Regions from separate parts of the Homo sapiens genome. Here all the other regions are reported to be linked to region 1. The links are microRNA targets in miRTarBase. Many come from high-throughput screens and were not tested one by one. Region 1 holds a microRNA gene; each other region holds the end of a gene's coding sequence.

Region 1 (6,073 bases):
CCCATGAAGCTGGCCCCAGTTACATAGGCAGGGATTAGGGTTGATTACGTAACAGGCGTAATCATCTGTTGTTCCCTTGGAAATGTAGACCGTGTGGGTTTCTCTCCAGGACTGTGGCGGGGCAAATGTCCCATTGGCCTCTGGGAAAATCCTTCTGACTCCAGTCATCTGTTTGGGCTAAATATATCAGTGACCTCCAAGAGAGGGAAACCCACCCTGACTGTCTGGCACGTGGTAATGTTAACTGTTTTTATGTCGCAGTAAACTCATTTATTATAAATATGCTGTGTGCCAGGTACGGTGTGTGCCATAAATTATTTCTCCTCCTCAGAACAGTCCTGGTGCGGCATTAGCCCCATCTCACAAATCAAGACTGGCGCTCAGAGACGCAGTTCTCTTCCCCAGGCCCTGTGGCTGCTGGTGGTACGGCCAGGTGGCTGCTGGGCCTCTATGTATGCAGGATAACTGGAACTAGGCTGGCAGAAAGTGGCCTGCGGGAAGGAATATCTAAGAAAAACTTGTAAATAACACATCAATTGATTGATCATAAATGGACTCAGAAATTACTCGTTCACTTAGGAGTAAGCCATATCCCTTTTAAAAAGTATATTGGACCGGGTGCGGTGGCTCACACCTGTAATCCCAGCATTTTGGGAGACCGAGGCAGGCGGGTCACTTGAGGTCAGAACAAGATTAGCCTGGCCAACATGGTGAAACCCCATCTCTACTAAAAATATAAAAATTAGCCAGGCATGGTGGCAGGAGCCTGTAATCCCAGCTACTTGGGAGGCTGAGGCATGAGAATCGCTTGAACCCAGGAGGCGGAGGTGGCAGTGAGCCGAGATGGTGCCACTGCACTCCAGCCTGGACAACAGAGTGAGACTCCATCTCAAAAACAAACAAACAAAAAACATATATCGTTGGCCCTGGGCTGGCTGCCCTCATGGCCCCGTGGCTCCCTCTCGCCTGCAGGTGGGTGACATCACCATCCTGGTGAACAATGCCGCCGTGGTCCATGGGAAGAGCCTAATGGACAGTGATGATGATGCCCTCCTCAAGTCCCAACACATCAACACCCTGGGCCAGTTCTGGGTAAGGGCTATCCGGGGCCAGAGCCAGCCCCGGGCGTGCAGGGAGCCCAGGCAGGATGGAGGGGAGGGGATGATTTGCCAGGGCTTGGGCTCAGGCCAGCAGGGATGTCCACGAACAAGGTGGCCAGACAAGACGAATGACCAGCTCTAGGACACATCAGACTTTGTGAAATATGCTCGGTGTCCTGGGGCAGGGAGCCCTCGGCCCTCTCCCTCGCAGGAAGGCTCGGGCCCTAGAGCATCATGTGTGTCCGGGGTGGGCTGTTCTCCCCGAAAGAAAGGTGGAGGGGTTGTCAGAGCTGCAGCTGCTCCACCCTGACACCCCATCTGCCCTCAGACCACCAAGGCCTTCCTGCCGCGTATGCTGGAGCTGCAGAATGGCCACATCGTGTGCCTCAACTCCGTGCTGGCACTGTCTGCCATCCCCGGTGCCATCGACTACTGCACATCCAAAGCGTCAGCCTTCGCCTTCATGGAGAGCCTGACCCTGGGGCTGCTGGACTGTCCGGGAGTCAGCGCCACCACAGTGCTGCCCTTCCACACCAGCACCGAGATGTTCCAGGGCATGAGAGTCAGGTCAGTGAGCAGGGGACCCACCTTGAGACCAGCCTTCTCACCTGCCTCCCCAAGCCATTCAGTCAGCCAACTGCAGAAAGAGCTCTGATATAAAAATCGGGCTAGGCACGGTGCCTCATACCTATAATCCTAGCATTTTGGGAAGCCAAGGCAGGTGGATCGCTTGAGCCCAGCAATCCAGTTTGAGACCAGCCTGGGCAGCATGGAGAAACCCTGTGTCTAAAAAAAATAAAAAATTAGCTGGGCATGGTGATGCACACCTGTATTCCCAGCTATCTGGGAGGCTGAGGTGGGAGGATCAATTGCTTGAGCCCAGGAAGTTGAGGCTGCAAGTGAGCTGTGATTGTGCGACTGCACTCCAGCCTGGGAGAGAGAGTGAGACCCTGTCTCAAAACAAAAAGTCACCAAGGAGCCTCTACCCTCTGTTTGACGCTGTCTTACCTGGTTCTCGGTCTGCAAGGCAGTGATGCCACGATGGGGAGGGTCCTGCTGCTTGGTTCAGGGAGCTTATAGGAAACTACCAGAGCTACAGGCATGCAGCGGGATGTGTCTAAAGGTCAAATGAGGGAGATGCACCTCCACAGCGTCGTGCAGGGCGAAGGGAGCTTGAGACATAGGGTGCATTCTGCCTGGTTCCACCTGTATGAAGTTCCAAAACAGGCAAAACTGGGTTAGGGTGATGGAAATCAGACCCGTGGCTTCCCCTGGAGGGCTGGGGGTGTAACCTGGGAGGGAGGCGAGGGAACTAGCAAGACCTTCAGAAATGTTCTCTCTTCTTGAACTTAGCAGTCATTAAATACGTGAAAGTTAATCAAACTGTCTGCTTAAGATGTATACCTTTTGTTATATGCAAATTATAGCTCAATTTATTTGTTTGTTTATTTAGTTATTTATTGAGATGGAGTTTCGCTCCGTTGCCCAGGCTGGAGTGCAGTGGCGCGATCTCGGCTCACTGCAACCTCCACCTCCTGGGTTCAAGTGATTCTCCTGCCTCAGCCTCCCGAGTAGCTGGGATTACAGGCGTGCGCTTGCACCCAGCTAATTTTTGTATTTTTAATACAGACGGGGTTTCACTATGTCGGCCAGGCTGATCTCAAACTCCCAACCTCAGGTGATCCACCCACCTCAGCCTCCCAAAGTGCAGGGATGACAGGTGTGAGCCACCACGCCTGGCCGTAGCTCAATTTAAAATGAGTAATAGGGAGGTCCCACCACTCCTCCTCCAAACCAGTTAAGTCAAGGGGAACGGGGACCACTGGTCTAGAGCTCATGCCACCTGGGGTGGTGACTCCCTCATAGCTGTGATGTACTCTGTGACATTGGGTCCCGTTAATTACTGCTGTGGCTGATCTGCAAGATGGGGTGCGCGAATGTCTCCATCATAGGTTCTGCAGTGAGGACAAAGTGGAATCTGGCAGGGAACACCGTGTGTGGTACATATTAAGTGCCCAATAAATGGCGCTTTAATGATGTGCAGTTATGTAGGGGCATGACGTCATCGATGAATGAAAACCGGGAATTACTCAAATACTATTCTCCCTGGTTTTTTGCAATCCAGCGTACAGTGCTTCACCTTCTGATTATATATTGCAGCTGCTTCCAAAAATGAGGATGACACGGAAGGGTCATGAGGAGAATTCAGTGAGACAATTTAGTGTAGTGCATGCCACGTGGGAGTCACTCATTACGCCTTAGTTACTATTAATCGGGACAGTGCGGTGTTGATTGTTGAGAATCAAAAATACCGGGCTTGGTGGCTCATGACTGCAATCCCAGCACTTTGGGAGGCTGAGGCAGGAGGATGGCTTGAGCCCAGGAAATTAGAAATAATACATGTAACACATCTAGTGCAAAGCCCGGATACTAGATGCTCAATAAGGAGCTGCTGCTTTTATTATTTTTCCTAACAATAAACATCTTCATAAATGCATGTTATTAATTTTCCTAGCAGACCACCTGGTTTGCATGCAAATTGTCATCAATTCTGAATTTCGAGGAGTCTAGACTAATGGCTACTAATGTTTCCTGTTGGCTTTTTCCCCCATGGGTTTTGGTTTGGTTTCTTTTCATCTGAGTATACAGAAGGTGCTCAATAAATGCATACTGGACAGAAGTGCATCAGTGGCAGTCTGCAGTTTTGTTTTGTTTTTTTTTTTAAGACGGAATCTTGCTCTGTCGCCCAGGCTGGAGTGCAGTGGTGCCATCTCGGCTCACTGCAAGCTCCGTCTCCCGGGTTCATGCCATTCTCCTGCCTCAGCCTCCCAAGTAGCTGGGACTACAGGTGCCCACCACCACGCCCAGCTAATTTTTTGTATTTTTGGTAGAGACAGGGTTTCACCGTGTTAGCCAGGATGGTCTCAATCTCCTGACCTCGTGATCCGTCCACCTCGGCCTCCCAAAGTGCTGGGATTACAGGCGTGAGCCACCACGCCCAGCCGGCAGTCTGCAGTTCTAATTGGGTGTCCTGAGCACAGAAGCAAGCAGGACATTGCAGACATCGAGTTTGTGTGTCTATTTCACCTTCTAGCATAGCTTCTTTCCTACCACTTTAAGAAGGAAATTCAAGGTTTTCCTGCCACATTTTTTCAGAGCGTGAACCCAAACTGCCTGGGGTCAAATCCCAGCTCTGTGTGACCTTGGCCAAGTTACTTGACTTTTCTCTGCTTCAGTTTCCTCACCTCTAAAAAGAGATTCATAATAATAGTATCCCCAGCTGGGCACGGTGGCTCACGCCTGTAATCCCAGCACTTTGGGAGGCCAAGGCGGGCAGGTCACCTGAGGTCAGGAGTTCAAGACCAGCCTGGCCAACACGGTGAAACCCTGTCTCTACTAAAAATACAAAAATTAGCCAGGCATGGTGGTGGGTGCCTGTAATCCCAGCTACTCAGGAGGCTGAGGCAGGAGGATCGCTTGAACCTGGGAGGTGGAGGTTGCAGTGAGCTGAGATTGCACAATTGCACTCCAGCCTGGGCAACACAGCAAGACCCCACCTCAAAAATGAATAATAATAATAATAATAATAGTATCCCCTTTTCATGGGTTAGATGAGCTCCTGTGTGTGAGTCATCTGGCCACGCCTGGCAAGTAGCAAGCACTAGGTGAACATTAGCTACCTATGGTTGTGCAGGGGAGCCCCAAGGGCTCGGCCAGAAGAGTAGTACAAGGAAGATGGGTACCTAACCAACTCCCATTTCCTAAAAGAATAAAAAATGGATAAAAGCATGGGTTTCCTCCTACAACCATGCTTAGCAGCCTCCCAGGGTTAAATGGGTTAAATGTGAAGACATGTTTAGGACAAAATGAGTGAGTTTCCCAGCAAGACTGGCCATGTCAGTGGATGTTATTGTTTATAAATTGCTATTTATTGAGCCTCTTTTTTTTTTTTTCTTTTGATACAAAGTCTTGCTCTGTCGCCCAGGCTAGAGTGCAGTCATGTGATCTTGGCTCACTGCAACCTCCGCCTCCCAGGTTCAAGCAATTCTCCTGTCTCAGCCTCCCGAGTAGCTGGGATTACAGGCACCTGACTCCATGCCCGGCTAATTTTTGTATTTTTGGTAGAGACAGTGTTTCGCCGTGTTGCCCAGGCTGGTCTTGAACTCCTGGCCTCAAGTGATCCACCTGCCTCAGCCTCCCAAAGTGCTGGGGTTACAGGCATGAGCCACCACGCCCAGCCAATTGAGCCTCTTCGATGTTCCAGCCATAGAACCACCTAGAACCACTAGACACTTTACAAGTGCTGCTGCATTTGGCCCTCACAGCAACCCTGGAAGAGAGCTTTTATTCCCATTTTACAGATGAGGGAACTGAGGCTCAGAGAAGCAAAGTTACCTGCCCAAGTCCACATAGCTTGAAACTGGCTAGCTAAGCATGCTTCTTCCACGAATTTGCACTGCTTCCATGGGAGTTAATAGCTGTGCCAGTTCCCCGTGTCCCCATCCCACACACCGTGGAGAGGAAGGAGAAAATCCTGCGCACAGACGTGCTTGAGGCCTCCTCTGTCGGCTTCCCTGGCAGGGGTCTTACCAAGAAGGATTCCCGTCAAGCCCATGGACTTTGGTCTGTCCATCCTGCCTTCCCTTTCCCAAGAGACAGGCCAGGCCACAGGTGGAAGCCAGAGAATCCAGACCGCCCACGACACCTGTAGGACTCCAGTATCAGTGAGCTGCCTCAACACGTTCATCTCTGTAGAATGGCAGAGGCTGGCCCCTCTTGACCACAGGGCTGTGGGCCTCAGAATCACCATCATGGCCAGGCGTGGTAGCTGGGTTCACACCAGTAATCCCAGTGCTTTGGGAGGCTGAGGCAGGGGAATCACTTCAGCCCAGGAGTTGCCAGCCTGGGCAACATGGCAAAACCCCATCTCTACAAAAAATATAAAAATTATCTGGGCATGGTGTGTGCACCTG
Region 2 (6,375 bases), not on the chromosome of region 1:
TCATTAGAAAGAACACTTTCTGAAAACAATATGTTGAAATCTGGGTGTTTTGTCCTGTGGATGTTAGAGGAAAAACTAGGAAGTTTCTTTAGTGTTGCAGAGAAATTGATTTTTTTTGTTGCATTGTTGTTAAACATTAGAAATTAAAATGATTTTTGAAACCAAGAAAAATTATTCACCCCAACCTCGTGGTTTTGGGATTTATTGAAAGACCAGAATGTCTGCTGAAATATGAAATCTGGTGTTTTGATTTGTTTGGATTCCTTGCCAGAATTTAAAGACTATGATTAATAGTTTATTTCTTATTATTCTAAATGTTATTTTAAAATGGTTAAGCTGGATAAATAATTCCATTAATCAAAATAACAGGAAATGAAAAAACAAATGGCGACCTAATTTGTCTCATTTTTAGCTGTGGCTATTATAATGCAAATGATGGAGAAATCACGTAGGTTGGTACATTTGAATATATGCATAATCTATTTTCAGTATCACTTTCAGAGTCTCAGCATCACAGATCAGAGTTTGAAATTCAGCTCATTTGCTTAAGCTTTTCTTATTTATTAAACCAAACAAGCATCTTAAAACACATTTTCCATTTTCTCTAAATATAATATGCTACCAAAAATCATGAATTAGACTTGGCGAATTACCCAAAATCCCCCCAGTCACATAGCCTTTGTTTACTTATGGTTTGTTGGGTAAAGGTTTTAGTCAGTAAAGCATTGTGCATAATTGGTCCTCAGGCACTTAGCATTGCCTGCGTGGCTGACCACAAGCCCTGTTTACAGGCTGACCTCCCTCTGAAGGCCGAGAGGTGCCCCGTGTGTCCTGGGGCATGGCAGGTTTTTTGTGTGCGGGGCATCGATCCACACCCACCACTACATACACATTTCCCTTGCCTTACTAAAAGAAAGAGAGAAAGTGGACCTCGTGAAGTCCCAGTAGTCAATATCCATCCCTAGAACACTGAAATACCTTCAAGAAAGATAGTATGTCTTTCAGCATTACTGAAAAGCCCACAGTTCACAGCTGCAGAAAAGAAAAGCGAAATCTTCCGAAAGCTTCTCATGTTTTGACTACTCTTTCCCTTCCAGGAAGACAAGGCGATGGTGGGCGTGCTCAAAAGATTATAGTGTGTCCACTTAATTTGAATATTTCTCTGCCTCCTTTCTTCCCTGTTTTATTCATTTCTTAAAAATGCTCTAGGGCTGCTTTATTGAATAATAACATGGTGGCCTCCGGTGAATCAATAACTTAAAGCAACTATCTTAAAAAAATGAGGTATTGGAACACATCCCTTCAGTTATGAAGAGAAAATGGGCGTCTCTGCATCTGGATTTGTGAACACAATTTAACCACCTAGTTGTTTGGCTTATCCCGACTTTGCAGTGCTTCCAAAATAAATATTTTTAAAGCCTTCTGAGCCCTGTAATATAAAACGTTAGCCCTTCATGGACGGAGGGCCGTCTTCCTGTTGCCTCTGGAACAGTCCATTGATGCCTAACCCAATGCAAGTCTGTGACTTCTGGTCCAAAAGAAGAGCTACCCAGGTGGATGTGCCCTGGGGGTGCTGTCCATGTGCAATCTAGGCACACACAGCACCTGTGTTCACAGGCATCCCCTGCCCGCCTCTTACGGTCCCTGACGTCTATGTTTGCTATGCAGAGACGGTCAAGGCCAAACACCCAATAGCTAACTATAACTCCCAGTTTTCTTTGGTAAACACGAAGACCATTTTCCTTCCAGAATGTATTTGGAATTGGTTCTTAGTGAGCCCTGTTGATGATGAATATTTCCCATCAGAACCTCAGAGATGTCTTCACGGCCTGACGTCACTGTACAAAAATGTAAAACAGTCTTTGTCCGTTTACTGCAGGAAATTCACCATCTACTTAGGGAAGTTTTATCACATCTCTCATTCCATTACTGTTTCCTACATTTCAAATAAACTGCTGTCTCCACCACTTTGCCCACCCCCTAACCCCTCGTAAAATTTTGTCCAGTATCTTTCTGACTTCCACTACATGCCAACTGGTAGATGTCACAAACACAGAGCCAGCTGTAAGTAGGAGTTTTCTGGAACTATTAACTAAAGAAAAGCCCTTAATTCATTATGTCAACCAGACCTTCCCCCACTCCGCCATTATTTCTGGGGTTCCTATAGGCATAGCTGGAAACAGAATTTTACACGAGTCCCTTAGTTTATGTATGCATGTTAATTTCCACTGGTCAGTTTCACTTCATCAAGATTTTAGCTGAAGGTTAATGCAGTTAAGTAAGATTAATCTGGCCATACTGTTTCTGTCCTCAGATTGTAAATGCTATTGTTCAAACAGGGATGCTTCAAATGTCATTGGAGAGCATTCTCTGAAAGCTGTGGACCCCCATTTATGCTTGGTTTTCTCTCGCAGTTCACTTTAGAATACTCCTTCCCTTTTTCCAACTTGGTAATTGTTTATGGAAATGGGTGAACACGCTCTGAAGTTCTGACAGACCTACGTGAGAGCCGTGCTCTTCTTTTTGTTTGTATGACCCCCAAATTCAGCCTTGTTTTGGAACTACCGTTCACTTGTAAATCTGCTTTGTACTATACAGTTTTACAATCTGGCCGCCTCCTCATCTTGCCAACTTGTAACCTTCTCTCCAGAGCTGGTTCAGACACTATCATCTGCCATTCTTACATGTGAAACCATTAGAGAAGCCTAATGATCCTTTCTAAATCACACTGGAAATGATTCGTTTTCAAGCTGCCTCTCTTTAAGGCAGGAAGGCACATTTGAAATACTTGCTGCTCATTTTATGAAATGAGTTACAGCTCAGGTCAGGGGGTCTTCGCCTACTTGGTTGGCTTGCTTTGTGAAGGTCATTGTTTGTGTTCTTGGATGTTGATTAGAAAATTAATAGGAAAAATGCATTTAGAAACCAAAAGGCAGAAATGAGCTTTTCTCCTGTTCTTTCCTTTTTCTCACCCAGGGGAGAGACCATTCTAACACAGGTACCGTCCAGACAGTGCCTCTGAGAAAGGGAACCTAAAGGCGTGTTTCCGACGCACCCCAGGTCCCCGTAACGGCCATTAGCAGTACCCTCACGATGTCCCAGCAGCCTCCCACCTGTGACCTGGCCGCTCCATGGAAGAACAGCCGGGGAACTCCTGAGCAGACACCTCACATCCCGAGCCGCTGCGCTGGAGTGGAAACTGAAGGCAGATGCCTCTCCTTGTTAAACGTTCAGAAATAAATGAAGATGCTATATTCTAGAAATACATGTAGATACTATATACGCATTTACGTGCTCATCGTCCATAGTCCCATATTTTCTTATAATAAACAGTAGTACTGGCAGGCACAGTAGGGGCACAAGGCATCTGTCTTATTCAAGACAAGTTTGAGACACTGGAAAAAAAGATACTTGTTGTGTGTGTTGGACAGAGTGGCGAGGCTGAGCACTGTCACAGGGGCCTCCCATGTTAAGAGGGACTGTGGGGATGATGTCAGAACAAGACGTGGTGGATTTGAGGTTGATCGAGTATTAATACTACTGCCTCTCCTTGTCTTAGTGGGTATTTAAAATAGTAAATAAGAGAGAGGAAGGAGGTGACGTTCAGGTGCTGTGGGAAGCAGGCTTGGCGGAGGGGTATGATGATGAGACCCTCATTGTTCACTGGCTCCATCGCACTCCTCCCTGGGGCCGTGTGCCTGTTCCATTCTTCCCACCATTCGAACTGAGCGAATCTGGCAAAGGAGACACGTCTGTGGGAATGCGTAGATTCCGCCTCGGAAGAGAGCTAGCGCAACACTAAGAAAAGCAGGCTTCTTGTTTATTCTCAGGACCTTTTTGTAACAGGGCTACATTCTGCAAACTGCTTACAAAGGAAGACTATACGTCTTAACAAATTATTTAGCCACTGAGTCCTCCCGATTCGGACCTGTTTTAGTAATGGCAGAAGAATCCCTGAGCAGGTTCAGGTGCCCTAGATGACTAGGGTGCTGAGCTCTGGCGCCTTCTGTCCCCACTCTTTGCCTCCCCGCCCCTTCCCTGAGCCACCCCAGCAAGTGGGTGTCTTTTCTCCCTGGGCCTGGTGACCTCCACAGGATGAGTGACTTTGTTCATAAAGGGTGGGGATCACCAGCCCCTTGGGTGGGGGACGGCTTCATATACCTCTTCCTCAGTAATGCAAATGCGAGTTTTTGTGGTGGGGGTTAAGGCCCATAACAAAGGATCTTAAACCATGCAGTGTACGCAATTGAAATGGTATTCCACAGATATAAATATTTTCTTTTCCCATTGCCGTGACACTATGTGTGATGGTAATATTTCTGAGAGTTTCAGATTTTTGCACATATGATTTTATGCATTATCAAAAGTTACTGCTGCCTTGAATGAAAATGTTCTGTGAAATTTTTTGCAAAAGCTTTACTAGGTTTTTTTTTAATTGTGAAATTTTGTAAAGGCAGGAAATGGATTAAAACGAGCATGCTAAATATATTTTTCAAAAAAGCAATAATTTTACATGTACAGAAATTATCCTAACCTTTAATACTGGCGAGAGCAACAGTTTACTTAATACGGTAATGGACTAGTGCAGTTTTTGTAGACAGTGGGCTTCTGATACAAAGTCTTGTTTAAACACAGACACACACACACACAAACACACACACACACCCTAAAGTGTGGGTTTCCTGTTCTAATGATTTGTTGAATATTATTATATTATTATTATTATTATTATTATTATTGTTATTGTTATTAGTAATGTTTGGTTCTGGATTCTACTTGTTACTGAGTTTAAATTACTTGACGGTTCAGGTTACTTTGCAACACTTTCAAACGATGCAATGTAACTGGCTAGCTTATATATATATATATATATATATATATATATATTTTTTTTTTTTTTTACTTATTTTTTTCTGATATTCTTACACCAGATATGTACGAAAATGATCTGTCCTGTTGGTGTAATTAGGAATGTCCATGCAGATACAGTTAAACAACTGTAATTGACTGTTCTGTAAAGTTATTTTGGGCAAAGTTGCGGAGACACATTCCTCTGTCCACCTAAGAAATCAGAAGACTCTTCTGTTGATTTATGTTTAATCATTTCAGTAGTTTCCCCACAGTGATCATTTCTGCATTTTCTGGCTTTTGTTTTCTTGGCTGAAAGTGAATGGTGACTGTTAGGAATGTCAGGGACTAGTGACCCAGTCCTGTTTCTCTGTGTTTTAGTTATTAAAAAGAAATTCTGTACCCAAAGTGACACGAAAGTGTAGTCTACATTTTTACTGTTTCAGAAGCGGCATGGAAAAGTGCAGTTGGCCTTTGGAGCTGGAAGTGTCTTGCTGGTGAGGCTCCATCCTGGAGGCTCTGGTGGGGAGTGGGCTGGCGCTGGGGCCCTGCCGGCCGCGTGCTGGATCCTTCCTGGCTTGCAGGAGAGCAGGCGTGGAGGACAGTCAGCTTGCGGGGCCGCGCAGGGTGCACAGAGTGCAGGAGGAAGGTTTTCACCCAGTTAAACAGACTGGGGAGCCCCCCCAAGAACGCCATCCCTTGAGGCCAGCTGTGGGCAGGCCTGGATGTGTGGTCCCTTCCTTCCACCCATCGTCAGTATTGTGTTGGTTTGTTAATTTGTTGATTTGGTCATAGTATTTAATATGATTTGTGTTTCCTTATTTATTTAGCCACCGTTTTGATTGCCTTTTTTTTTCCGAATGGTAATTTCTGCATGATACACTTCTGTACGTTGTCTTCTGACTGTTACAGACTTTCTACTACCTCTCCCGATCTGCTGTTTCCTTGTTTCTTAACAGGATTTTTTACAGTGTTGCGTCTAATGTAACTTAGACAATAAAGGGTTTGGTTGTCTACACTGCAGCTTCTCGGTGTCTCTCCCCTGCTTTCCGCTCGCTGCTTCCCGCTCTGCCCCTGCTGGGGCCTGGCTGCACCCTGGCCTGCCTTCCTATACTCTCCTGTTTCCTGCTCATATCTCTTCCTCATTTTTGCGTTCAAATAACACACAGCTAATGAGCTTCTAAAAATCTTTTCAGGTTGTTCACTTGTATTCCTTAATTTGAAGAATGAATATTTAAATTCTCTCAAAAGTCAGATATTGAGGATCTTCTCTGGGAAATTGGCCACTGTACCTGCCCACCTTTCTGCCTGGTTCCCTGGAAGGTCTTATTGTCATCTTAGACGGACAGATTTCATTCTCAGCACCATACAGATTTGGCTTCAAAGCCAGGTGAATTTTGCCTTTGAGGCTCTGAAAAGTATTAAGTGTTTTAAGAGGTCCCCCAATATTTACTTATTTATTTTTTAAACCAAGAAAGACACTGGTTCCCTGAAAAGCAGGTGCTTCAGGAAGTAGCAATTGGGAGT
Region 3 (5,757 bases), not on the chromosome of region 1:
GGCCACATGTACAATTGCATTTATATGAAATGTCCAGATTAGGCAAATTCATAGAGATATAAGGTAGGTCAGTGGTTTCCCAGGGCTGGGGAGAAGAGGGAATGGCAAGTGACTGCAAATGGGTACATGATTTCTTTTGGGGGTGATAAAAATGTTCTAGAATTAGATAGTGGTTATGGCTGCACAAATTCGTGTATATGCTAAAAACTGCTGAACTGTATACCACCACCAAGTACAGGGCAATCCAGAGTTCAGTACAGGGCTCAGAACCTAGTAAAAAATTAGTCCTCTCTGCCACTGCAAATCAAAATCAAACCTGGCCTGGGAGTCAGATCAAGTTCTGCATCCCAATTGTTGCGAACATCCATGTGACCTTAGACAAGTTTCTTCCCTATTTCCTTCCCTATAACATGGGTATAATTGAGCAGGGAGGGAGAAGGCTGGTGGTGCAATAGGGTGTGAGGGGGGGATTTTGTTCTTTCCCCAACTTTATTAGATACCCTAATAATCAGTATCATCATCATCATCATCACCCATTTCTAAGCATTTTCACATACATGATGTCATTTGATCTTTCCCCTTAGAAAAGACACATATTGTTTCCATCTTACAGATGAAGAAATCGAGGATCTGAGAGATCAAGCAGCTTGTCCACGTTCATCCAGTGGGTGTTGGAGCTGAGATTCGACTCCAGGTCTTCTGATTCTAGATCTTGTTCTGCCTACACTACCACACTGTTTTTGCATGTTTGCATTCTCTCTAGAAAGCCCAAAACAGCAGTGTCCAGCAGCCTCACCACAAACACTGTACACCTTTATCTGGGCAAAGGGAGGAAGGAGAGGCAGAACCTGGGGTTCTGCTGGTTCTCTTTTATCTTTCTTATGAACCTCTATATTGGCACAGTAGCAGTCTGTGGGTAGGAGTATTCACGCACATTGATGTGGACACCAAGCCCACATACATCACAGAGAGAGACACACAGGTACACCTGACCTCAACAGGCAACAGGTCATACTTGTTACTAGGGTAGTGAAGGGGCTATGCTTTTTGTTTAGGGGAGGCCCAAGAGGTCAGAACTCTAGGCGTCTGCTCTCCTTTCTAATACCAGGAGACCCATCTCTCCCAAAGGCCTTAAGGAGGAAGAGGTGGCTCCTTAATCCTTAGTAGAGAGGAGTAAGGAGGAGGGAGAGAGGAAAGTATCCTCGCTGTCCTTGCTAAACCAGAGCCCCAAGAGAGGGAACATCAGGGATTCACTACTAAGAGATCTGGGCCTACATCTTAAAGAGTATCCATGAGACCCTTGCTGCCAAACCCAGTTAAGCCTTTGTGCATCACAGTGCTAAGTTCTAGTAATGCCACCAGCTACATGGGCTTTGCCACTCACCTTCTCTGATTCAGTTTGCTTATCCAAAAATGTGTCTAATGATTACTGAGTCTAGCTCAGGGGGGCGCTCTCAGGTTTCAGCAACATAAACTGAAATGCTTTAAAAATAAAATGCACTTTATGAACACACTATTTCATCCTCCCATACTGCCAAGCAAGAGTGGCTCAGGCACTCTTGCTTGAATACACCTGGGAGTGACCCTCTCACGCCTTTCAAGGTGGCAAGGCTTGGGCAGCAAGGAGAGCCGTGCCTAAGGCAGCCATTCTCTTCAGAAAAGGCAAGGCTGCCCTGGGGCACCAGGCCTGTCCAGGCTTGCTCGCACCCTTCTTTTTTCATTTGAGCAATCTGTATGTATCAAACACTTCCTACAGGACAGGCACTGTTCTGTTTACTTGAAGATAAGCAGTTAAGAGAAAAATGCTCTCACAGAGCTTATATTCTAGTTGTCACAGGCCAGAAAGTAAACAAAAAACAAATATGTCAAGCGTTGGCAGATGCTACGTGGAATTAAACTGGGTAAGGATAACAGCGATGGGGGAGAGGTGCTATCTTGCACAGGATGTCAGAAAGCCTCTCTGATAAAAGGATGTTTGAGCAAAGACTGAAAGGAGGTGAGAGAATAATTTAGCGGGGAACCACACCTTAAATCTAGTCTGGAGGACACTAGAGTTCAGGGAACAGAGATCGACAGTGCCACAGCAACAAAGAAGATTCCCTACCATGCTGGTTATTATCCATTTGCCTCCCTTAGATTGTCACCACCTTGCCCTTTCCTGCTGTTCCCAGTGGGGAGGGGGACTGAACCCTACAGACTGCATCCTGGGTCTGCCTTGTCATCTGCCATTTGGTTGGGTTCAGTCAAAGGGGGTCCCCAGAAGACTGGAGAACAGGATACAAGGAGCAGGGATATTGATGCTCCTATGGGCACAGTTCTAATAATGGCTGCATTGTTCCGAGAGAATTCCACAATTTCCATCTGCTTTCCACAGTCCCTTCAGTGACACATGCTCACATACTTTCCCATCCTGGGCCCCGAAAAGTGGAGGCTCATCTCCTCCAGGAAGCCCTGCAGGATTAGTCTTCCAGATGAGCACTGTGCACCTACCTGTGCAGGAATGTGTTGTTCACAGATGCCACCTGGACTGCCTCTTTCATCAGGGAAGAAAGTAGATGAGCTTTGGCCCTGGAGACACTCATCCCTGATGAAATGTGAACTGTGGCCTCACTCTCCCTCCCAAAGCTCCAGCTCTGTCAAATTACTCACGACAGCTAAAGCAGTAACAGAAGTTGGGGCTCTAGAGTCTCTCAACTTAATCCCTTAGGACCTCACTGCCCCAGAGGTAGAACTTCTCCCCAAGATCAGCCAACCACCTTCCTAACTGGAGGAACCCTATCTACCTACCTCCAACACTCAATAGCTCATTGCCCAGTTCATTTCCTTGATAACACATTTATCACTATTGGAAAAAGTTGATCAGTGTGTGTATGTCTGCTCTACACATAAGAATGTGTATGTCATAGAAGCCTAGAACTTACTTGTCTCATTCTCCTCTGTGAACAGCATCCTAGGCCCAAGCATACAAGAACTCTTAAATATTTTTGAGTAAAGAAATAGTAACACAAAGAGGGCAAAGCACCTCTGGCTCCCTAACACCTCCAAGAGAATTGCAGTCACACGATGGTGGAGTCAGGGGTGGGCAGACACTCTCAGAAGTCTTGGCACTGCTGATTTCTCGAGTTGTGTGTCTGGGCAACAGAGGATTCAGAGAATCACTTAGGTTCCACCAAAAGAGGTGCCATCTTTCTAAATATCCCCAGCTTTCCATTTCTGAGTGGCCAGACCCTTTGCTAAATAGTCTCCAGGTTCAGGAAAGCCGAGAAGGGAGGAGTATGAAAGATAAGAGCTTTGGGCAAAAGTTGAAGCAGCAAAGCTCAGGCAGGTCCATGACGGCAGCTGGGAAGGTAGCAGTTACTATCCCAAAGACACAAAATATGATTCACCTGGCCATCACCACCAAGGAAGGCAGAACCCAGGAGCCCTTAAGGGTGAGTGCTGCTGGTTAGTTTTCCTCTACTTAAGGGGCATAAGCCTAGGCACAAATAAGTGCTGCTACAGGCCAATCAGTATCTAGTGGCTGGTCTTCCCTTCAGTCCCCATTCTATTCCACCCTGGAGACTCTCCACCCTCACCCACTGTGTGGCACCACTGCCACCATGCCAACCCCTCATCCCCAAAGAGACCCAAACAGTGCAGAGGTGCATCAATCAACCTTTAATGTCCAAAAGAGGCGTGGATGCAGAGCATAGGAGATGTGGCAGGGTCTCAGGCCCTGCTCCAGAAATGAGGGAGAGATGAACACAAACCAGACACTTTCAACTGGCCACACAGTCTGGGAGGGCAGGGGGAAACACAGATTTGGACATTCATAAAAAAATAAAACCTAAAATCAAGCACTCAATTTTGTGCCCACTGAAGGGTTTGATAAAGGGAACTCAGTCACCACCCAGGTCTCCCCTCCCCTGCCAACATCACAAAGCAAGCTCGGCACACACTAAGGGCTTAGGGAGGGGTATTCTCCTGCCTCCCCACCAGCCCCAAGAATGGACTTGAAAATAAAAGAATAAGCTGGATCCCCCACCCCCCCACATTGTCAACCCTACACGAGAGTTTTGAAGGCGACTCATGAAAATCAGCAGCTCAAACGGCAATGACCACCCCACCCCAAACCCCACCCCACTCCTATTTCATTAACAGACAAGATTTCCCCTGCATCCTCCTCAGAATCTCCTCCTCTCACAGCCCTGCTCCATCTCCTATGTCCTGGCTTCACCACTGCAAGACTGACCTCCTCCAAGGCTCCCAGAAGCTCCTCTTAGCTCTTTATCACTTCTATCCTCACCTCCCACCAGAGACTGCAACCATCCACAGTCACTGTCCCTCTGCACTGAGACCCAGCTCCAGAGCAGATGGCAGCATGGTCATCCTGTCCTGGGTGGTCCTCCTAAAGCCTTCCCAGGGAGCAGACAGCCAGAGAGCAAGCAGAGTGTCTGGGCTAGATGACAGCAAGGAGGGGACACCTATCTTTATTTTCAAAACAGATATCCCCAGAGGCTTTTAGCATAAAAGCCCACTTAGAACTAACTGTGCCCCCTACCTACCCATACACCCTAGAGATTCCACACTGTCCTGCCCCCTCCCTCCCTTCTACCCCAAACCCCACACACACATACACACACATATACACACATATTCACACATATACACAGAAGAGTCAAGGGAGACATCAATTTGGTTTGATTGCTAAGACCTAACTAAGGAACTACAGTCACCAGAAATTCCCTTGCCAGCCAACTAACAACAGGGGCTGCTCTAAGAGAACTCCAGAGGAATGAGGAAACTGAGGGCTAAGCAGGGAGCAGACAGGAGAAAAATGTAAAGAAAAAAAAGATTCAAGCTAATCCTACCCCAGCATCCTCCTGTCATGATCTCTGGCAGGAAGAACAAAAGAAGGTAATCCACAAAGACACAGCCCTTACTTAGAAATTCTGACAAAGACAGCAAGACAAATCTGCTCCCCACTCCCACACACCACAGACAAACACATCTCAGGGCCCCTAAAGAAGGCATCCCCACCCCACCCTCCGCCCCAAGCCATAGAATCACAGTTCAGTGGAATATTCTCCCTGGTACTAGATCAATCCCTCCACCTTCCTTCCTACCCCTTTTTCCTTGACAATCCCAACACTGTCCCCCTGCAGCCTCCCTGGCCCTCCCAAAGCAGCATCCACCGCCAGGAAGAGGCAGCTGCACAGTTTTAGTTCCACCTCCAGAGACCTATTTCTTTTCCTCAGCCCTCCTAGTCTTTCGGCCGCCTAGTCTCTATGGTGGGCCTTTTATTTTGTATAGGGAAAGAAAGAGAAAAGGGAGAGGTGGGAGAGATTTCCTAGTGCAATACAACCAAAAAATATTTTTAAAGTCTTGAAAAATAAACATAAAGCAGCCTTCTTCCCCCAGGCAACTAAACAGAAAGAGGTTTGGTTTTGTTTACTGCGACATACACATGAAATCGAGTATACAGTCCATGCAGTAGCACAGCCATTGGAGAGGACATCCTGATGCTGGCTCCAGTGCAAAACAGTCCCAGCAACGCCGCCTGCTTGCCATCGCTGCCGCCGCCACTGACACCTTCACCATGGCCACCTAGCCTGACTTGAAGAGGAGGATTGCAACTTGACCCAAGTAAAAATAGATGAAGTGCTTTGTCTCGTGTGTGACGTAGCTGCCAAAATTTCGGCCCACGATACAATGCCAGGTAGGGTTATATTTCTTGTCAAATTCCTAAAAAAGAACAAAGGTAGAGAAGAAAGGTAA
Region 4 (6,375 bases), not on the chromosome of region 1:
TTTTTCTTAAGTTCTCTAGCTCAAAAAAAAATCAAAACTGCATCTTAAAGAACTCAAAATTACTGAAGAAAAAAATTAATATAGAAAAAACTTTTGTCTAGACAATTTAAATAACTCAATAGAGCACCTGATCTTTACTTGAAGCCTAATAGGGGGCTGAGACCTCAAGGACTTCACTGGCCTTTCTGATACGGCTAGCCTCAATAAATGGAAATGCAATAATTGTGGCTAAATATAGCCAAGTGTGCCAGTTTGGGCGTTCATTCATTGTTATATAATATTATGATCCTGGGACCATAAGGAGCATATGTCTAGCTCTTGATAGTTCTATGTTCTACCAGGAGGCATTGCAGCAGCATAAGCCCTCATGTTTTAAGGTCTAACTTTTCTTTCTGATATACCTAAATTTTAAAGACTTTTTAGTACATTAAGTTTATGGTTGTCCCTAACTACTGAGTAGTAAATTTAGCCTACTAATTGCTTTTCTGTATTTTGCCTTAATAATAGTAGTTAACATTTACTGAATATTTTTATGTGCCAGGAGTTGTTCTAAGTCCTTTAATTATATTAGTTTATTTAGTCCTCATTTAAATAATTAATTCTATGTGCCAAATTCCATTTATTATCTCCATTTACTAGATGTGAAGACCCAGTTATAATGTTATATAACCCCCTAAGTCACACTTTGAGCCACTATGCTATGTTGCCTTATACTTTAGATTTTTAAGCCTAAAATTATTCTATTAATAAAAAGGAAGGTCATATGAAGTAATTGTTTAGCAGTTGATTCTATTTTAAATAAAAGGAACAAACCTTTGTATAATACTCTCTATGTTCCAAGCCCATTATAAGCACTTTACACAAATATTAGTTCATTTAATCTTTACTCCAGTCCTGTAAGATAGGGACATTATTATTCCTATAGTGTGGAAAAGGAAATTGAGACACAGAGAGACTATGTAACTTGTCCATGGTCACCCAGCTGGTACATGACAGAAATTCAGGGAAAAAATACCATCACACCAATTGTTGCAATTATTTTAATTTAACATTCGAGTCCTGCCACTGCTGTTTGTCTCAGAATAAATTGTTCCATCTTTCTAAATCTTAGAAACCTCATTTATAAATTAAAGGTGGGGGGATTCTATCATCTATAAGGCCCTTTCAAATACTCTTATTTATTGTGTACAAAAACCCCTGAAAAGTCACTTACAAAAAAACTTGTTCATGCCCGTCTGAAGATTTACGAACTCCAGCTTTTTATCTGACTGTGCATTCTGACAATTTTCTGCATTTCTCTAAGAATGGTCTGGAAAGGGATCTGGCAGGAAATAAAGAATATATAAAGTATTTTGATGGTCTCCAGAAATGCCCATTTCAACTCAGCATCTGCCGACAGGTCTACCTAATCTTCCAAACTCTGTGTAAATCCTGGATCCACCATTTACCAGCTGTGTAACCCTGGACAACAATTCCATCTTTCTGACCTCAGTGTCTTTCTCTGCAAAACAGCGGTAAGAATGATCCTACTTCAATAGAGTTGCTGTGAGGATTCACTGAGATCATGTGTACCAAGCTCCTACAATAGTACTGAACCCACAGTAAGTACTGAGTGAAAATTAGCATTATTGCAGATTTCTGCTCCTATGAAAGTTACGATTGTGAATTACTACACTTATACACTTCCTCTGAAGTCTAAAGAAATCACAGGCTCCTCCCAAGATTTGGAAAATTGAGCTCATCTTTGTCTATCTTCAGAAAAAAAATCTAGTTAAATTGTTCAATGGTTAAGTTAGATATTATCTGATATGGAACTAAGTTTGTGAGATATAAACAGTATTCTGTCCACCCCTCCTTAGTTAAGCTAAGAGGTATTAGCTTTATTATTTGCTAAATGTCACTTAGCATTTGATAAATGTAACATTTACAGTGCATTCTCCGAGGACTGGAAACAGTATTGTAGAACACCAGAACCTGTTTTCCCCTTGAAGTAACACGCTATCTCAGTATATAAATTACCCAGTACCCAAGGTAATGGAGAAGAAAACCTAAGGAAGTTTGACATTTACTTTGGAAGTGTGATAAAGCAATTGAGACTGTTGAAATTTAACACTACCTTGAGGTCTTATTACACTTGCATGTCACTCCTTAGTGCAAACTCACTTTTGCTTTATAGAAGAGCCCAATATATTAATCTACAGCCTTAAAGTGAGTTACCGGTTTAATGCAGATCCAATCTGAGAATAAATTAGGCCCTTTTAAAGTGTATTACAGAATGTTGAGCTAATGGTAATTGACGACGTATATTCACTCTTTGCCAAGTTGTAGGTACAAATGTGATATGATTACATCCAGGACAAGAGCCTGAATTTAAGTAAGGCTTTTAGAGCTGAAGATCATAGAGATTATATCATCTACCAGAGGCCCAGAGGGATTAAGTGATTTGTCTAAGGTTATACAGATAATAGGTGGATATCCCAGATTTCAGACTAGACTTTCTTGAGCTCAAGTTCAAGGAAGGTCCATTCTTCTACACTATGCATTCAGCAATATATTACAATGGTAATAATAATTACAATAACCCCCATCTATTGAATACATCCTGTGGGCCAAGGGTTCTGGTAAACTCCACACATATAAACCCTCCTCTGACCCTGACCCTGTTCTATTCCTCTCATAGCTCCATGAGATATGTCTGGTTCTCTTCATTTTACAGAAAGATGACTGAGACTCAGAGTTTGTGACTTGTACAAGGCCTCACAGCTAGGAGATGCCAACAGCTGGGTCCAATCTCAGCTCGGAATCTGCACTCTGTCTACAGGACTAGCGCTTTGCCCAAGGAGACCAAAATGAAGACATCTTGTCTCCTGGTCTTGAAAATTAACTAATTCACTTTTAATGACATCAAGTGTAAACAATCTACCAAATTATTAAAACATTATCTTTTTGTCTATGTAGGCCATGGATCAAGACCATTAACTTATAATCAGTGATAGCCAAGAGGATGGGAAGAGAATATTAAGCCTGGTGCTCTGCAAATTAATACTTGCAGGTAAATGAGAAGTATCATAGGCATATTACTATTTACTTAACGTTTCATTCTATTTGAAAGAGAAATTCCCAAATGTTAAATACTACCCTACATTTTAAGCTTAAAAATACGCTGGACATGCGACAATGGTGCTGAGTACTTTGGGGGAAGATCACAACAGTCCTGGTAGCAGTGTCACAGCAAAATATTTCAGAGGTACCAGATGAGCTAGCTCCAAGGCAAATGAGGCAATATTATGTTTAACTGTTTGTTCGGAAACTTCTTTTATTAAAAAAGATTTTAAATATTAATGCTATTTTCAATACAGGTGTGATAACACTCAATAAAGCATGGTGTACTTGATATAAATTTCGGAATGTAACAGTCCATCTAGTTCCTGGTCCCCTCCAGTCTCCACCACATAGCCTAGTAGCAAAACGTACACACCCGTTTAAAAATGAAGAAGCTTTTGGGCATTGGGTGAGCACAGTGGGGTGGGGCAAGGAAAGTGCTCGTTCCTGAATTATTCATGCTTTTGGCTTTGACTTCAGTTAGTAACATCAATTCTAAGAGAACTGAGACAAACTCTTCTATGTTCCGCAAAGGAATGGAGAAAAAAGCCTGCCATTCGCAAGCAGCTGTGGGCAAAACCAGCGCAGAGTACAGGGGTCGGGAAATGAGGGATTAAAAAAAAAAGTCGGAGTAAAGTGCACAGTTACTGTCAAAAATATATTATTTTGATCCTAAGAAAATTAAAAGATTTTATCTAATGGACTAGATTGCTGACCTTTTAATACATTTGGTTTTCATTGAACATACAATCACCATCGGACATAAAAAGACTAGTTTGCTTAAAAAAAAAAATCCTTGGAGTTATCTACAGGAATCTTGTGGACGCAATTCAAGGATAACATTCTGCAGCTCTTTGGATATTGAATGATGTCCTCGGATCAGTCCACAAAAGAAACAGGGACCTGTTAATGCACTGATTCAAGTGGGCGTTTCTCCCATTTTCTCTTTCCTCCTCCCCAACCCACCCCTTTCTCTAAATGCCTGTGCTTTCCAGTTCTTCTTCTACCCCTATGGCATGAGACCTGGAAATCATGATGAGTTTCTCCTTGTTTGTAAACTGCCTCTGCACCGGCTGAGGTTGCTCGGCCGTGGGTGGCTCCTGGCTGGCACCCTCCGGCGAGCTCTGCTCCGCACCCAGAACGGGGGCGGCCACAGCAGAGTCTCGCGTTTGACCAGCTACTGCGTCCAAGACCGACTCGGTGGAGGTGCCGGCCTCCCGCAGGGGTGTGTAGCCCTTATTGCTGCTGGATGGGTCATCCGACTGGGAGCTCCCGGAGTCCCGCCTGGTGGGGGGCGAGCCCTCCAGCCGCAGGGGTGGCGAGGGGGAGGCGGCCTTGGCCAGAGGGCTGGAGTCCGGGTCCGCACTCCCCGGGGAGGGCGGGGGCTCGGGGGACGGCGGCGCCCGGTAGTCCGGGAGCCCGCTGGTGCTGCGGCGCCGCAAGGCCGCGTACCTGCCGGTCCTGGGCAGGCGGCCGCCCTGCCCCCTGGCGGCGCGCGCCGCTACCGCGCCCTCGGGCTCCTCCGGCTCCCGGCGCGCCCCGCGCATGCTGCCCTCTGCGCCGCGGAGGTTGGTCATGCTCAGGTCGAGCTCGCCCCTCGGGATCTCCTGGGAGCCGCGTTCCCCCGGAGGCCTCTGCCAGCTGCAGCTCGCGCCCTCCGCGTCCCCGCCCCTATCGCGGCCCCCTTGCAAGGGCAGCAGCGCGAAGGCGCTCAGCGAGGAGTCCACGAAGGAGCTGGCCGTGCTCTGGCGCCCCCAGCTCTCGGGTGGGCTGCAGGGCGCCGGACTGCTGCAGCTGCTAGCGGCTGCGGCGGCGGTGGCAGCGGCGGCCCGGCGACTGCCTGCCACGCCCGAGCGCTCGCGGTAGACGCTGTACACGGCCTCGGCCAGGCTCGGGGGCTCCCGCGGACAGCGCGGGGAAGAGGCCAGGTCCGGCGGGGACGCGGCGCCCCGAGGGCGGCCGCCGCTCGGCGCCGCGGGGTGAGGAGGCCACGAGCCCTTGGCCAGCATCGCCGCCGCTCCGAAGGCGTCCCCGGAGCCACCGCAGCCCCCGGGCTTCAGCTCCAGGCCCCGCGACTGCACGTAGCTGAGGAAGCCGTTGAGCGGTATGGCCCCGGGGGGCGCCGCGGCGGGGGCAGACGACGACGAAGAGGCGGCGGCGGCCGCGGCGGCGGCCGCGGCGGCCGCCAGGTCTTTGGCGCGGAGGCTGTGCACGTCGATGACGGTGGAGTAGAGGTCCCGCAGGTTGATGATTTTGGTCTTCTTGTCCCGGTTCTCGTGGAGGACCGCGTTTGCGCAGATGAAGAGGAAGATGCCGATGCCCATGATGAGGGGCCCGAAGACCTTGAGCTTGTCAGAGTGCAGGTAGCCAGAGAAGATGCGGAAGAAGAAGCCCACGGACGTGGAGGAGGAGGACGGGGAGGCGGCTCGTGCTGGAGGCGTGCTCCTGGGCGCGCCCGCGGAACTGGAGTTGACACCCCCTGGAGCCCTAGGGTGGCTCCTGGACCGGTTTTTGCTGCCACTGCTACTGCTGTTGGCCGTGGTTGGGACCCGGTGGCTGCTGCCCGCAGGCGGCAGCTGCTTACCCCCCTCCCGATTGGTCCCGGTGGCCTTGGGCCAGTAGCCCACCACCGCCATGGCTATGCCCACCAGCAGCACCAGGATCCCACAGAGGGCGATGAGCCCTGAGATGGAGCACAGCTTCAGCTTGCCTTTCACCACCACCACGTCGTTCTTGCGCCTCTTCTTGGCTTTCCGCTTGCGCTTGGGTATCTGGCTTGGGGGGCGGAGTGGATCCTGCTTTCTGGCGGAAATCCTTAGCAGGCCGCCGGTGGCGATCATGGCGAGCTCCTGGAGTGCAGGACTAGCCTCTGGGATGGAGGCTTGCACAGGGAGGGCGCCAACTGCCCACTAGCTGCTCAGCCACCTCCTCCTGCTGCAAAGCAGAGGAAGACAGTCAGAGGGTGTCAGCTTGGCTGCAGTGACATCTCACGCTGCAGCTGCCCTACTCCCAGATCCCACTCCGTGTGTGCCCCCCACCCCAGGGCCTTTATCCACTAACTGAAACAAGGCCGTGTACAGAGGCTGGAGCCAGGTAGACACTAGGGAAGGGAAACGTTGTTGCAACAACTAATAGGTGGTTATAAAACATTGCAATAACTAATATGTGGTGATAAAACCATCTGAGAATATGCCTTCTTCTCCTCGCTCCCCACCCATCTCCTCCACACACTCCATGGTAATATGAGGGTTTGAAATGAACAATGGAGTTCCA
Region 5 (6,375 bases), not on the chromosome of region 1:
AAAAAAAAAAGAGGCACCATTTCAGTACCAGACGAGCAAAAATGTTAAGTTGAACTAATATTAAGTGCATTACAAGAGTGGGGAAACCAGCACCTCATTCACTGCTGAGGGAAATATAAACTGGGTCTACCCTTTGGAGATCCATCTGGAAATATTTAGCCATGCTGAAATCATAACGTACCTTCTGACCCACCAGACAATTTAACTTCTAAGTAGTTACCCACCATGTAAATTCTCACATGTGCACAAGAAGAGATGTTCAAATACATTTGTTCCCTGTAATGTTAAGATGGTCAAAAGCTGAAAATGCTGTTAGAATTTTTCTATCAGTAGGAGAATAAGTAAATTGTGACATATCCATACAATGAAATACCAAACAGCATTTAAAATGAATGAACCAGAGTTACAACCTTGAAGCAAATATGGCAAAATGTTATAATCTATTAAAGGTGAGTGAGTGGAGTCTACAACAGGTATTATCCTCTGTGCTTCCAGTACTTGAAATATTTCAGGCCAGGCGCCGTGGCTCATGCCTGTAATCCCAGCACTTTGGGAGGCAAGGCAGGTGGATCACCTGAGGTCAGGAGTTTGAGACCAGCCTGACCAACATGGTGAAACCGCATCTCTACTAAAAACACAAAAAAATTAGCAGGGTTTGGTGGCATGCGCCTGTAATCCCAGCTACTCAGGAGGTTGAAGCAGGAGAATCGCTTGAACCCGGGAGGCAGAGGTTGCAGTGAGCCAAGATGGCGCCACTGCACTCCAGCCTGAAGGATAGAGCAAGACTCTGTCTCCAAAACAAACAAACAAATTCAAAAATTTTAAAAAGTAGCTAAATATAAAAATGTTGGGGAAAAGACAATACTTCTCCCCCCACCCCGTTGTTTTTTTGTTTGTTTGTTTGTTTTTTTGAGATGGAGTTTTGCGCTTGTTTCCCAGGCTGGAGTGCAATGGCATGACCTCGGCTCACTGCAACCTCCGCCTCTGGGGTTTGAGCGATTCTCCTGCCTCAGCCTCCAAAGTAGCTGGGGTTACAGTCATGTGCCACCACACCCAGCTAAATTTTGTATTTTTACTAGAGATGGGGTTTCACCACATTGGCCTGGCTGGTTTCGAACTCCTGACCTTAGCTGATCCGCCTGCCTTGGCCTCCCAAAGTGCTGGGATTACAGGAGTGAGCCACTGCGCCCAGCCTCCCCCTTTATTATATCAATTTCTATGACACACATTACTGTACTTGTAGAAAAATTTGGCCACTGAATTCACCAATGTACCCAGATGTCTTATGAAATAAGTTTTTCTTACTGTTTAAGACACATTTAATTAGATTTTCTGCTTCTTGCAGCTTATTGCATATTGATACAATGCTCTTTATCAAAACAAAACTCAACTCTAAACTCTGAAGAATGTACAAATTCCAGTGAGTTCTTGATGACTATAAAGACCCTGTTATTCTCACACAGGGTGGAGGCAGGAATTTCGCAAACTACACAAATAGCTGTAGTTTTACCAGCACCACCCTAATAATTTTGCTTCACACTTTCCCAATCATTGAACAGTTCCTAAGATAATGTGCCTATTTTGTTTTTAGCATTGTTAGCCACATCTAGAAATGTGACAAGGAGTCTAAATTGCTTCTTTGGAAGTATTTAAAGCCATTTGTAAGTCTTCCTCTGTGGTTCCCTAAAAATGTTGTTTAAATGTGTATTCTAACTTTCCAACAAGAGGGACAGTTTATGGATGGGAAATGGATTTGTTTCTTTTCTATCCTAGATATATCTAAAATCTAGTATTCTATATAGGCACTCAACAAGATTGTGCAGCCAACTCCCACAACTACAGAGACAGCTTTTCATTTAAACATCACACTTCTGTAATAAACACTTACAAAGGTAAGAACGTTTTAATTAAATGGATTTATTTAAAAAGACTATAAAATCTGACATCAAGAGAGATAAAAAAAAAAGACCCATAAGATTTAAATTGACAAATATAAAATGATTGGCTACAATGTAAAAATACATTTCCCAGCCCCCAAACAAAACACAAGTATAGTAATTATAAAATTTTTGTACTGTGAGTTCATTTCTCTTATAATTCTTGAGAACCATTCTAAGCAATCTATTTGTATAAAATATAAAATTTATCATAACTGTTAATTTAAAAATTATTTTAAATTTGAGTTTATTGAATTTGCCATTTTTTTGTACATAACAGTGGTTTCTGGTCCCAAGTTCCCCTTGAACTTATTTACTACAATGGTCTTTTTACTCCTATTTATTTCCTTCTACAATAGAAAAGAAAGGCTAACCATTCATGGGTCCCATAAAAAACAATGTGAAGGAAGGTTCTAAGAGTGACCAAATATACCAGTGAACATACTATCTTTCTGAAAAAGAAAGAATTAAGTGACCAACTAAGAGATCCACTTTTGCACCAATGAAACACATGGAGGTGAAACCTCAGAACAAGCGGAGCTTAAGCTCAATGACAGTATGTTTTATATGACAGGCCAGCTGAGAATGTATCTGTCAATCCTGACTAAGCCCAATACATGGGTGGTGACCCTGAGGTAGCCCAGATGATATGCTCTGAATTTTAGATAGGTCTAAATCACAATGGTACAGTCTGATGTGAAACTTTAGTCTACCTACCATAAACTCGTTTTCTGAATCAGTCCTTATTCATAATTAGACCCAAAACCCAGCTATTTCTCCTCTCTTAGATGACATGCCCAATAAAAACAGCATCCATGATTGGTTTCATTATCTCCCAATTAAGTAGTGGTGACACCACCACTAACACTAGTATCCAAACTCTGATACAAATCCTAAAGGTATTGAGTCAGTAAGACAGAGCAGAAGCTATGTTGGGCCATACTGACCAATTTCTGAGAACCACATTAGCCACATTCATGCAATTAAAACCCATCTAAGACACACAAATGGCAGATGAGAAAAAAAAAAAAGGATGAGGTCATTAAACTTTATCACTGGAAACATGATTCCACTGTTTCAAATAGGAAACCTACCCTGGGAGACTTCCACCAAAGTGCAGAAGGACCTGATGCACGGGCTCATCATCTTAACACTAGAGTCCCAAGTCAAAACTCTAGGAGGAGGATAAGAAAGGTCTAGTCTGTGAATCACCTGGACAGAAAGGTCATATCCCAAGTGCCCTGCCTATCTGTGACAGCTGCTAGCCAACAGACAATTCTGGTTATGAAGTTATCTCTTGAGAATGGCTTGATTCTCTTATGCCACCAACAGTATTAGTCTGGGCAGGGTTCCCTGGATATTTACTTTTTTTTTTTTTTTTTTTTGCCAAAGACAAACTAGAGCAATGCCTATGTAAGAACAAGGACTCTCAAGATCCTGCTACACAGTATTCACAATCAAAAGGGCCCAAGATTCAGGACCACCTAAAGACAACTGACAAAAAGTGTCAGAGCCAGAGGCCAACCTCTGCTAGATGAAGCAGCAGCACATGACTCCATTTCTATCTGATAAGGAGACAGAGAAGAGGCATCTCGAACAGATGAAAAACCAAAGGCTGGTGTCCTAAAAAAAACAGATTGGCTTCAAAGAAAACACTAAGGAAGACCCACAGAGCTGTATTAATTTTAGTAAAAATAATCATATGCCAACAGGGGAATTGAACCACTTTCTAAATCATAGTATGAACTCATCTCTTCAGATACTTGGTAAGTGGTCAAAGCTTGTTTTTATAATTACTTTCACTGTCTTGGGCAAAAAGTCTTTCTTATCTTTGGTCCTTAGGTGTGGTATCAGTTTCTTCCATTTTTTTATGTGTTACAAAACAATCTTTTTTTTACTTGACATCAACAACCAAGGTGCAGTATAAACACGAAGTTGCTGATATTGTTGCTTTTATACACATAAAATACCAACATCTCCCATACATTTTATAGGCTATACGAAGGTCTCAAAGAATTAATAACCGTTATCCAAAAATATTATAACATTTAAGGCTGAGTGAAATACAGTAAAGCCTGGTAATATATGTTAAGGAAAAAAACCTAGACCAACATTTTAAATATTGGTTTCTTAAATATGTTAAATTCCCATTAACAGAACATAATCTAAGCATCAAAACAAACAGCTAAGCAAATTAATTTAAAAATAAAACAATTTCTAAGTAGATGAATATAATCACGATGTTTATACAGCTATAAAGCATAATTTGGAAGCTAAGCCTAGTAAAAGAATGACCTGTAACAGAATGACAGAATCATTTATCAACCGTTGAGCTGTGTGATTTAAAAACAATTGTTTTCTCCTCCTCCCACCAAAATCTCCATTTGAGATAAGTTTCAATTATTATTTAAAAAAAAATTTTTTTTAACTTATCTGGCCTACTTTGTGGTGACTGACACAATATTGATAAAACTGCCTTCTTGACCTTCCCCTTGCTCTCCAAAAGAAGTGGTTTAAACAATTAACAAATTTTACAAGAGCTTCTGCCAGGGCTCAGGCACCACAATGCAGGGTCACTACCTTAGGTAACATCTGCTCCCCAGAGTCTTTAGGCATTAAGTGGCTCAGTGAGGGCTTCAGCCCTAGTGGTATTTTCAGGTTTTCTCAGCTGGGACTCCTGTCGTTTTTCATACAGCATAGTGATAAAGTCAAGTAGGAACATAAAACTTGCTATAAATCCAAACACCTGAGGAAAAAAAGGAGGAAAGGTTATATGAGAATTTTGGAATATAATCTTACATTTCCTACTTGGCTTGGAGAATGTTTCATATAAACAAGATGTTCATGAATTTTATCTTATACACGACTACTCTTTAATGGTAAAAAAAATTTTTTTAAGTCATCAAAAAATGGAAAGAAGTTATAAAAGAAAAACTTCCAGAATAATGGCTATTAGTCAAAGTCTCACAAAATATTAATGTTCTGCCTTATGTGTGCATGTTTATATGTGGAGGGCTAATATATGAAAGTAGGGTTAACAGATAAACATTAAATCCTATAAAATGATACAAAACAAAAATATTTGCATGGTTAGATTGACCCACAGATGCGATAAGGAAAATACGTGACTAGGCAACTCAGCCTAGGTGAAAATGAAAAAAGTTATTAATATCAAAACAGAAATTCCATTTTGAAGATACTATTAGGTTAAATTACTTAAATAATGTTCCAGTTGTCACACTGCAATGACACAGTGACATGACGCCACTACCTACTTCCTCTTCCTTAAATCACTTCCTCAACTGTTCTCTTCTAAAATACGATCATACGTTCTGAGAATTCTATCAAGAGACAGAAGACCATGCGTCTGCTTCAAATTTAGCTTCTCCACTAGCAAAACCCTTAAGGATATGGGGGCCAGATAAGTTCTCTGTAAAAAAGAGAAAATTGATGTAGGTGATGGCTAAAGTCTCTTCCAAATCTAAACTCCCTATCTCCACGATTTTTATTAATAACATTCTCTTACAGTCTGTTGCAGTCTCCTGACCTCTCCTCCCCCCTCTAAAGAATAAGCATTCCACCTCATTTTACCACAAAGTAAACTGAGCTCCAAATTCATTAAGTCCCCCAGATATCCCCAACATATCCAATCTAAATTTAATTATCAACGCCTCCCACCCTCCCATCCCCCGCCACAAAAGCCAAGTCTTTTTCCCTCTGGAATCTTTATTTTTGACTTGATGGCATTTATCCCCTTATTTTCCTGGCAACTTTCTTAAATACATCAAACTCAGACCAAATGTCACCCTTGTTTTTGAAGCTGTCTCTGATCACCACAAGTCATCTTCTAGCTCTTTTGTTCACACACTTCTGAATTAAAAAAAAAAAAAGAACTTCCTCATGCATTTAAGTCTATAAAACTTTTCATAATTTAAATAGTTACAAAAGGTAATTTCCAGCATATTATAAATATCAGCTTTTTAAACTACCTGTCACTATTAAATATATCCAATGAAATATAAATACTGGGACAGTCTAATTAAAATATAAAAATTTTTTTTATAGCTGTAAATTTTTTCCCTGGAACTCAATTTTTCCTCAACTTCATTTCACTTTCCCCACAGAATTTTATAGTAATGTATTTTTATACAAATAAGTAGCCAGAGCTTTTTAAAATTAAAAATGAGTTAAAAAACTCATTATTTTATTGATCACCATCTCATACTCCTCTGCAACAAAAATGTTTCTAAACTGAAATTAACCATAAAGCCCTATTAAAACTTTGATTTTTCTCTTCTATTGGTTCATGTACCCATGAATAAATATTGCTTATTGCTAGAATGAATCAAGATTCAGTGTTAATTTTATTTCTATGTTTTGTTTTTACACATGTAAGTGCTAAGAAACTGTTGTCATATGAATAGATAAATATAGCCAT

What was found. Region 1 holds the annotated microRNA hsa-miR-6730-3p (CCUGACACCCCAUCUGCCCUCA, at 1,406-1,427, shown strand). A microRNA usually pairs through its seed, bases 2 to 8, with sites in the 3' UTR of a target mRNA and lowers its output. Matches are read on the target gene's strand: a 7mer-m8 pairs with bases 2 to 8, a 7mer-A1 pairs with bases 2 to 7 and ends in A, and an 8mer does both.
Region 2: miRTarBase lists ZNF516 as a target of hsa-miR-6730-3p. Seed matches in the 3' UTR shown: 7mer-A1 at 3,492-3,498.
Region 3: the mRNA of DYNLL2 is a reported target of hsa-miR-6730-3p. Seed matches in the 3' UTR shown: 7mer-m8 at 5,565-5,571 and 7mer-A1 at 4,931-4,937.
Region 4: the mRNA of TMEM200C is a reported target of hsa-miR-6730-3p. Seed matches in the 3' UTR shown: 7mer-A1 at 1,277-1,283.
Region 5: miRTarBase lists CMTM6 as a target of hsa-miR-6730-3p. Seed matches in the 3' UTR shown: 7mer-m8 at 4,390-4,396 and 7mer-A1 at 1,939-1,945.

Annotation. Positions count from the first base shown.
Region 1 is chr1:12,574,312-12,580,384 of GRCh38, reverse strand. MIR6730 (microRNA 6730) reads left to right here and starts at 1,362; the gene lies at 1,362-1,428. DHRS3 (dehydrogenase/reductase 3) reads left to right here. Exons shown (of 6, transcript NM_004753.7): 3 at 973-1,092; 4 at 1,429-1,667.
Region 2 is chr18:76,359,159-76,365,533 of GRCh38, reverse strand. It overlaps ZNF516 (zinc finger protein 516), which reads left to right. Exons shown (of 7, transcript NM_014643.4): 7 at 2,977-6,375. The coding sequence ends at 3,036. Among named protein-coding and RNA genes, the nearest start is that of ZNF516-AS1, 130 kb to the left of the region's middle. RefSeq lists enhancers at 2,655-3,154, 3,155-3,656.
Region 3 is chr17:58,089,109-58,094,865 of GRCh38, reverse strand. DYNLL2 (dynein light chain LC8-type 2) reads right to left here. Exons shown (of 3, transcript NM_080677.3): 3 at 1-5,724. The coding sequence ends at 5,587. Among named protein-coding and RNA genes, the nearest start is that of DYNLL2, 8.6 kb to the right of the region's middle.
Region 4 is chr18:5,886,122-5,892,496 of GRCh38, forward strand. It overlaps TMEM200C (transmembrane protein 200C), which reads right to left. Exons shown (of 2, transcript NM_001395400.1): 2 at 1-6,036. The coding sequence starts at 5,942. The coding sequence ends at 4,077. It overlaps MIR3976HG (MIR3976 host gene), which reads left to right. Exons shown (of 10, transcript NR_172496.1): 8 at 1,400-1,601; 9 at 2,959-3,052. Among named protein-coding and RNA genes, the nearest start is that of TMEM200C, 6.2 kb to the right of the region's middle. RefSeq lists a silencer at 4,442-4,661 and an enhancer at 5,179-5,706.
Region 5 is chr3:32,479,415-32,485,789 of GRCh38, forward strand. CMTM6 (CKLF like MARVEL transmembrane domain containing 6) reads right to left here. Exons shown (of 4, transcript NM_017801.3): 4 at 1,898-4,683. The coding sequence ends at 4,546. Among named protein-coding and RNA genes, the nearest start is that of CMTM6, 20 kb to the right of the region's middle.